2 linked regions of the Homo sapiens genome follow. The protein of the gene in region 2 purifies or fractionates together with the protein of the main gene of each other region. This does not show direct contact. Each region holds a gene or a part of one and is shown on either strand. Other genes may lie near its edges. The genes, in order: CDK5RAP2 and SPTBN2.

Region 1 (3,812 bases), on a different chromosome or scaffold from region 2:
CTGTCTCTAAAAAAAATTTTTTTTAAAAGCCAGGTGTGATGGCACACGCCTGTGGTCACAGCTACTTGGGAGGCTGAGGCAGGAGGATTGCTTGAGCCTAGGAGGTGGGGTCGAAGCTACAGTGAGCCATGATCGCGCCACTGCACTCCAGCCTGGGTGACAGAGCTAGATCCTGTCTCAAAATAAAAAAAACACAACAACAACAAAACCTCAACAAAAACAAAAATGTAGTGAGACAAACGTTCATGAACAGAGATAGAATTGTTTTGCAAAGTAATGGAGCAACAGTTATCATCAAGAGCCCTAAAAAGTTCACAACCTTTGAACTAGTAATTCCACTTCATAATGGGCGACAGCCAGGTGGATGGGCAGATGAATGGACAGACACACCAGGGTGCAGATGGAGAGAAGAATGGATGAGAGACCAGATGTACAGAGGCCGTCATGGGAACAAGACAGCAGAGCCCATGGAGCAGTTGCAGGAACACAAGGCACAAACCCCACCAAACACAGCCACCACCAATAGTTCCCCACACTGGACCTGACCTCTGAGCTCTCTGAGGCCACACTTCCTGGTCCCTCTTCTCAGGGTCCTAATGAGGACAACTGCGCCATTTGACTCCCCTCCCCCTTCCACCGACACTCCCAGGGAGCAGCTTGTGCCCCCCAGCTCTGTGGTCAGGTTACCTTTGTTCCCAGCTCTTGACTTGTGGAGCTGGGAGCCTCTTGGGTTTGAATGTCCATTTCAGCAAGGAGCCTCTGTCCCTGGCTGATCTGTTTGAGCAGGGCCTCATAGTCCTCAATCAGGCCCAGGACATGGCGGCCATTCTTGCTGGCCCACAGGTGGTGGCCAGTGACCAGGCGGGACACACACGGAGTGCTAGTTGCCGAACTGCCACTGTCGCAGGAGAGGGAGTCCGTGTCATTCCCAGAGAGTGGAGGAGTCTCTGAAACTGTAAAATGAGAAGTAGGATGTAAAATCTGTTTCAGGTAACACTCTGCGTTCAAGACGCTTATGATGTTGAAGCTAGCTAGGAGGGCTAGAAGAGGCCCTCGTGCCCAAATGCCACCCAACACAAGCCCAGAGGGGAAAAGAGGCACGCTCCTGGACCTCTGTATATTACCCCACACTGGGCTTATGAGTCATCTTGTAGGAGAGGCTCAAGTCAACTCAACCAACACTTATCAACCACCCACTCGGCAGAAGACCCCAGATTCACAAGGATGACTCAAGCTGGTGCCTGCATTCCAGTAGCCCACAGTCTGATCAGAACACAGACACTGCAGAAGGTGCAACAGCAGAGTGATGAAGGGCCAGAGCCAGAAAAAACAATTATCTGTGCAGGGAGGGAGAGAACAGGGAAGGCTTCTGAGAAGGAGCAGCATTTGAACTGGATTGAGCAAGTAGCAAGAATTACACGAATGATGAGTCATTCTGACCAAGGACAGCAGCAAAGGCATGTCACAGAGAAATGTGTATTCATGATGAGTCTTGAGGAAACGGGACTTCTACCGGCAAAGAGTGGGACAAAGGGGGTCTAAAAGTCACAGTGAGAGGAAAGTGTGGGCCTGTCTGCAGGATGGTGACCCCTGTGTGGCTACACCAGGTTAAGGGATAAGGCTGGACGGACCCACTGGAGCTGGATCCTGGAGGGCCTTGAAAGCCTCACAAAGGTGGTCACAATTTTAATCTAAGGCAAGAGGGACCCAATGATGTTCTAACCTTGGTAACACCTAGGAGTGGATTAACTGGCTTGAAGGAGAAGATCACCAGCTGGGGATGCTGAGAACTTGAAATCCCAAATCCTTACCAAATACCCTCCTGAGTTGGGACCAGGGACCCCCCTTTTCTGCAAGTTAAAAAGTCTTACTGTCACATCCAATGCTCCCACAGTTACCTGGACTTCAGCTTTGTACCTGATTTTGGTGTCACTGCCTGGGAGGAATCAAACAGATCAAATGAATTATCACTTTCCATGGGATATTTGTCACCATCTACAAAATGCAAAACACGAGAACTGTTAGTTTCACTGTTGTCAGCATTCAAGAGAGAACTGAAAGAGAATACAGTCAAGCCCCTCACATTCACTTATCCATACACACACAGCATTCCTTCAAATCTTCACTGGGCCTCTGTCCTGCCAAGCCCACCTTTGTGGGACACCAGGGAGACAGAGTGACCAGGCCCAGTCCATTCCCTAGAAAAACTCTCAGCAGAAAAGTAAATAAGCAATTTTATTTTAGTGTGATCAAGGACAAGGGAGGGAAACACAGGCTGTTGGGGCTCAGGTGAGGGGCACTACCCCCAACTTGGCTTCCCAAAGGCTAATACCCGTTTTAAAACCTTATGTTTTAAGACTGATTGTGACTGACCTATGGTAAGAAGGAGGGAAAGAAATGCCAGGCAGCACAATGGGCAGGTGAGAGGCAGACAGTGGGACAAAGAGTGGAATCATCGCTCAGGGAGAAATAAGCAGTTCATAGACCCAAGGCCCGGGTGCAGGGAAGGACAAAGTAGAATGCAAGGCCAGAACCAAGAGGACTGAGGGGCCCACTCAAGGGCTTTGGGCAAGGCAATGTCAAGCTGAGGTCTGTATTTTGTACTGAAAGAGTAAGTCTGGAGGCTGCCACACTAACCTAAGCTAGAGATGAGAGTAACCCACAATAGGATCTGGGGGGTGATGTATTTGCAACACTGTAAGGAGGCAAAACCAATAGATGCTGTACAGATGACCTGTGCAACACGTTATAATTTGGAAAGCACTTTCACATATGAAAAGCTATTGGACTCAATAGCTCAGTGGGCAAAACACACTGTAATTCAGATTTCATGGAAGGGGAGACCAAGGGGCAGAGATAGAAAGTGATCTGTCCAGCATAACCCAGCATGTCAGTGGCACAGAGCAAGGAAGCCTAGGGCTTAGGATCCCCCTTCCGAGCTCCTGCACCACTGGGCGGTGGGCTGACTGCACTCCAGCATTTCCCAGGGGTGTGCTACAGTTCCTAAGGCCAAGGAGCCAGGAGGTCAGCTCCATAGAGCTGGCCCCAAGAGGAATCACTCTCAGTGAAAGACATCAGCCTTTAGAACAGAATTTTTAAAACAGATGCACTTAAATACAGACCTGAGAAGTCTTTTGCAAAGGAAGAAATGCTGCTGCCTATAATTCTGATCTTGACTCAAGGAAATTATAAAACTTTTCTGCTGAGGCAGCACTGTGAATTCTGAATGCTCTCCTGGATGCCTCTTGCCAGGCATGATGAGGGCTGCTTTCGGCAAATTTCAAAAGCAGGTAAAGGCTGTTTGATGGCCTCCTCACTTCAGCTACCCAACTCTCCTTCCTGGGTACCCCAAGCACAGAACTGTTCTCCCTGCTTCAAACTCCCCTAGCCTACCCCACAAGTTCCTGAATCCCATCTCCTCAAAGCCTTAAAAAGGGCCAGGTGCAGACCCGTGTTGAAAATAGTAATGCCCAATGCTGAGGTCACACAAAAACCACTACCTTTGTACACTGCTGATGTACAGACTATTTAGAAGGTGGCAATATGGCACCTTTCCAAACTTATGAGGTTCCCCTTGTAGGGTTTTCTCCTAAGAATATTATTTAACAGCAAAAAGCATATTAACATTGATGTCTATTATGGCTCCAAATCAGAGACCACTTTAATAAATCAACGGGGTCATGGATTGGTGACTGAGAATAGCCTGCAAACAATCATTAGGAAGCCCATGTGAAAGCACAGGGAACATGTATGATGTAATATTGGGCAAAAACAAAGAAAGGACACACAATGACACAAAATCCAATTTGAAA
Region 2 (3,812 bases):
ACTGCCATCCCCATTGCTTCATTTTTCTGTCAGTTTCCTGGTCCTGCCCTCCCAAACCCACCTGTGGTTGAGCTGCTCCTGGGTGTTGACAATGCGGTCTTTGCCTGGGGGGTTGGCCTTCAGTAACTGCTCGGCAATGTCATTCACCGCGGTGATTTGTGCTGCAAGGGTGTTCATTTCAGGCTCCAGGGTCTCGAACCTGAGAGGGTGGAAGAGCCAGGCGTGAATTGTGGGAGGCAGCGATGTGCCCAGTCCACCTAAGTCCACCTCTCTTAAACACCCAGGAGGGTGTCTCCTTCACCAGGAGGCTTATCTGCAGGAGTCTCTCTGCCTCTCAGCCTATGAGGTTCATAGTATCTGTGCATCAAGGAAGGAACCCACAACTCCCCCAAAACAAGCAGAATAACTGTCATCGCTAGAAATGCTCAAAAGATGGTGAAAGGTAAAGGTCAGGAACAGACACACAAGTCAAACTAGACCCTGGCATGGGGCCAACCCTTTATCAGAGCTGCTCAGCCTCCTGGGACTTCCCCCTTAGCTGCCTATCTGGGTCTCATCCCACTAATATGTGTTAGAAAATGAAGTAATAACCAAAAATATTTGTCTGAGTGATGAAAATGTGAAGGATAACTTCTTCCAGGGACATTTTATGTTTTGTTTTTGAGATGGAGTCTCGCTCTGTCACCCAGGCTGGAGTGTAGTGGTGCAATCTCGACTCACTGCAACCTCCGCCTCCCGGGTTCAAGCAATTTTCTGCCTCCGCTTCCCGAATAGCTGGGATTACAGGTGCCCGCCACCAAGCCTAGCTAATTTTTGTATTTTTGGTGGAGACGGGTGTTTCACTATCTTGGCCAGGCTGGTCTTGAACTCCTGACCTCATGCTCCACCCGCCTTGGCCTCCCAAAGTGCTGGGATTACAGGCGTGAGCCACCTCGCCTGGCCGACATTTGATGTTCTAATAGGGCAGGGTCTGCAAATGTTTTCTGTGAAGGGCTTGATGGTAAATATTATAGGCTTCGTGAGCCATGCAGCTGCTGCGGCAACTATTCAGCCCTGCTGCTGTAGCCTGAAAGCAGCCACGGGCAATACGCAAAAGGGCGAGTGTAGCTCTGTTCCAGTAAAACTTTATTTACAGACCGGGCATGGTGGCTCACGCCTGTAATCCCAGCACTTTGGGAGGCTGAGATGGGTGGATCACAAGGTCAGGAGATCGAGACCATCCTGGCTAACACGGTGAAACCTCGTCTCTACTAAAAATACAAAAAATTAGCCAGGTGTGGTGGCGGGTGCCTGTAGTCCCAGCTACTTGGGAGGCTGAGGCAGGAGAATGGCGTGAACCCGGGCGGCGGAGCTTGCAGTGAGCCAAGATTGTGCCACTGCACTCCAGCCTGGGGGACAGAGCAAGACTCCGTCTCAAAAAAAAAAAAAAAAAAAAAAACCAAAAAAAACTTTATTTACAGAAACAGGCAGCAGGCTGGATTTGGCCCAAGGGTTGCAGTTTGTTAACCTCTACATTAGGATACCTTGAAAACTAAAAAAAATCTTTAATTACATTTTTATTTTTATTTATTTTTTTGAGACAGGGTCTTACTCTGTCACCCAGGTTGGAGTGCAGTGGCACGATCTCAGCTCACTGCAGCCTCGACCTCTGGGCTCAAGCAATCCTCCTGCCTCAGCCTCCCCAGTAGCTGGGACTACAGGCGCCTGCCACCATGCCTGGCTAATTAAAAAAAAAATTTTGTAGAGGTGGAGTCTCACTATGTTGCCCAGGCTGGTTATGAACTCTTGGAATCAAGTGATACTCCTGCCTTGGCCTCCCAAAGTGCTGGGATTACAGGTGTGAGCCACCAGGCCTGACCTAATTATATTTTTTTAAACACCAGGAAATTTGATTACACATTGATCATAGATCATATCAAGAAATTCCTGACCCGGCGCAGTGGCTCATGCCTGTAATCCCAGTACTTTGGGAGGCCAAGCCGGGTGGATCACGAGGTCAGGAGATCGAGACCATCCTCGCTAACATGGTGAAACCCTGTCTCTACTAATAAAAAAATACAAAAAATTAGCTGGGCATGGTGGTGGGTGCCTGTAGTCCCAGCTACTTGGGAGGCTGAGGCAGGAGAATCGCTGGAACCCGGGAGGCAGAGCATGCAGTGAGCCGAGATCGCACCACTGCGCTCCAGCCTGGGTGACAGAGTGAGACTCCATCTCAAAAAAAAAAGAAATTCCTAATTTTGTTCTATGTGATAATGGTATTGTGGTTCTATAAAAAAATTTTTAAGATTTATTATTGAATAAATGATTTGAAGATTTATTCTGTAAATAAAACTATTTTAGTGTCTCTGTCTAAAAGGTTTATAACTTCAAAGCCTCAGCTATTTTAAGTCCACACAGACAATTTGAAAATAATATATTGTAGGTAAGAATGCTTCCTCGTATTTCTTTTCTTTTTTTTTTTTTTTTTTTTGAGACAGTCTCGCTCTGTCGCCAAGGCTGGAGAGCAGTGGCACGATCTCGGCTCACTGCAAGCTCCGCCTCCCAGGTTCATGCCAGTCTCCTGCCTCAGCCTCCCGAGTAGCTGGGACTACAGGCGCCCCCCACTGTGCCCGGCTAATTTTTTGTATTTTTAGTTGAGACAGCGTTTCACCATGTTAGCCAGGATGGTCTCGACCTCCTGACCTCGTGATCCGCCTGCCTCGGCCTCCCAAAGTGCTGGGATTACAGGTGTGAGCCACCGTGCCCGGCCGCTTCCTTGTATTTCTTAAAGGGCACACCCTGAAGAAGGTAGGAGGGATGTGCTAATCTTGGGGATTTGCTTTTTAAAAGGGCAGAGAACCAAATAGAGCAAGATGTTGGCAATGACTGAATCTGGGTGACGGGTGTAGAGGGGTTTGTGGTGAAATGTCTCTACTTGTGAGTATGGTTAACATTTTTTGTTAAAACTAGAAATGGACAACCATTAAGACTCAAAGGGGTGAGGCAGGAAGTTTATGGAGGGACTCACCACCCACATCCTGGCCCCCCCACCCCCACCTCCCAAGGCTGGTCCCACTAGGAGCCTGAGGGGCCTACCTCTGCTGCACGACCTCCAGGTCCTCCAGGCGTTCAGGCAGGGCCAGCCCGTTGAGCCACTGCTCCTTCTCCTCCACCCAGAGTCCACAGGCCCCGGCCTCGCTGAGCATGGTGTAGAGCGCCAGGGCTGCCTCCAAGGCCCGCGCTCGCTCGCCTGCCCGGGCCTGCAGCTCCTCGTAGTGCCGCTCCAGGGTGGGCACCCGGCTCTGCACCTCGGGCGTGCGGCTCAGTGTGGGGGGCAGGGCTGCTGCCTGTTCCCTCAAGGCGTCCAGGGTTGGCCGGTGGCTTCGAATCTCCTCCTCCAGGGCCCGATGCTGCCTGGCTAGAGCCTGCGTGGAGAACTCGTCGTGCCCCAGCTCGGGGCTGGACACCAGGCGCAGTGCGTCAACCAACCAGGCCTCCATGTCGTTTGCATCGGCCTGGAACTGGTAGAGGCTGGCGGCTTGGGCCAGCCGCTGGGCACGCTCCTCGGCCAGGGCCTCTAGCCGCTCCCACTGGGCTTGGAGTTCAGCTGCACGGGCAGAGGCCTGGCTTGCCCCAGGGTGACCCTCGGCCACCAACTGCTGGCCCTGCTCCAGGGTGAGCTTCAGGGGCCCCAGCCGGCCGCTCATCTCGCCCCGCAGGGCTGTGTGCTTGTTGAGCAGGCGGAGGGCACCGGTCAGGTCTCGGCCCGTGTCGGCTGAGGCCAGGAGGTGCTGCTGCTCCCGCACCCAGGCCTCAGCTTCACCCACCTCCCA

Evidence for each region.
Region 1: the proteins of SPTBN2 (region 2) and CDK5RAP2 purify together in Homo sapiens (co-immunoprecipitation; one large-scale study listed by IntAct). This does not show direct contact.

What each region holds. Positions count from the first base shown.
Region 1 is NC_000009.12:120,402,119-120,405,930, forward strand, and holds part of CDK5RAP2 (CDK5 regulatory subunit-associated protein 2), read right to left. Parts: intron 1,996-3,812; coding exon 1,918-1,995; intron 954-1,917; coding exon 688-953; intron 1-687. UniProt on the Homo sapiens protein: Potential regulator of CDK5 activity via its interaction with CDK5R1. Negative regulator of centriole disengagement (licensing) which maintains centriole engagement and cohesion. Involved in regulation of mitotic spindle orientation.
Region 2 is NC_000011.10:66,701,523-66,705,334, forward strand, and holds part of SPTBN2 (spectrin beta chain, non-erythrocytic 2), read right to left. Parts: coding exon 3,076-3,812; intron 200-3,075; coding exon 62-199; intron 1-61. UniProt on the Homo sapiens protein: Probably plays an important role in neuronal membrane skeleton.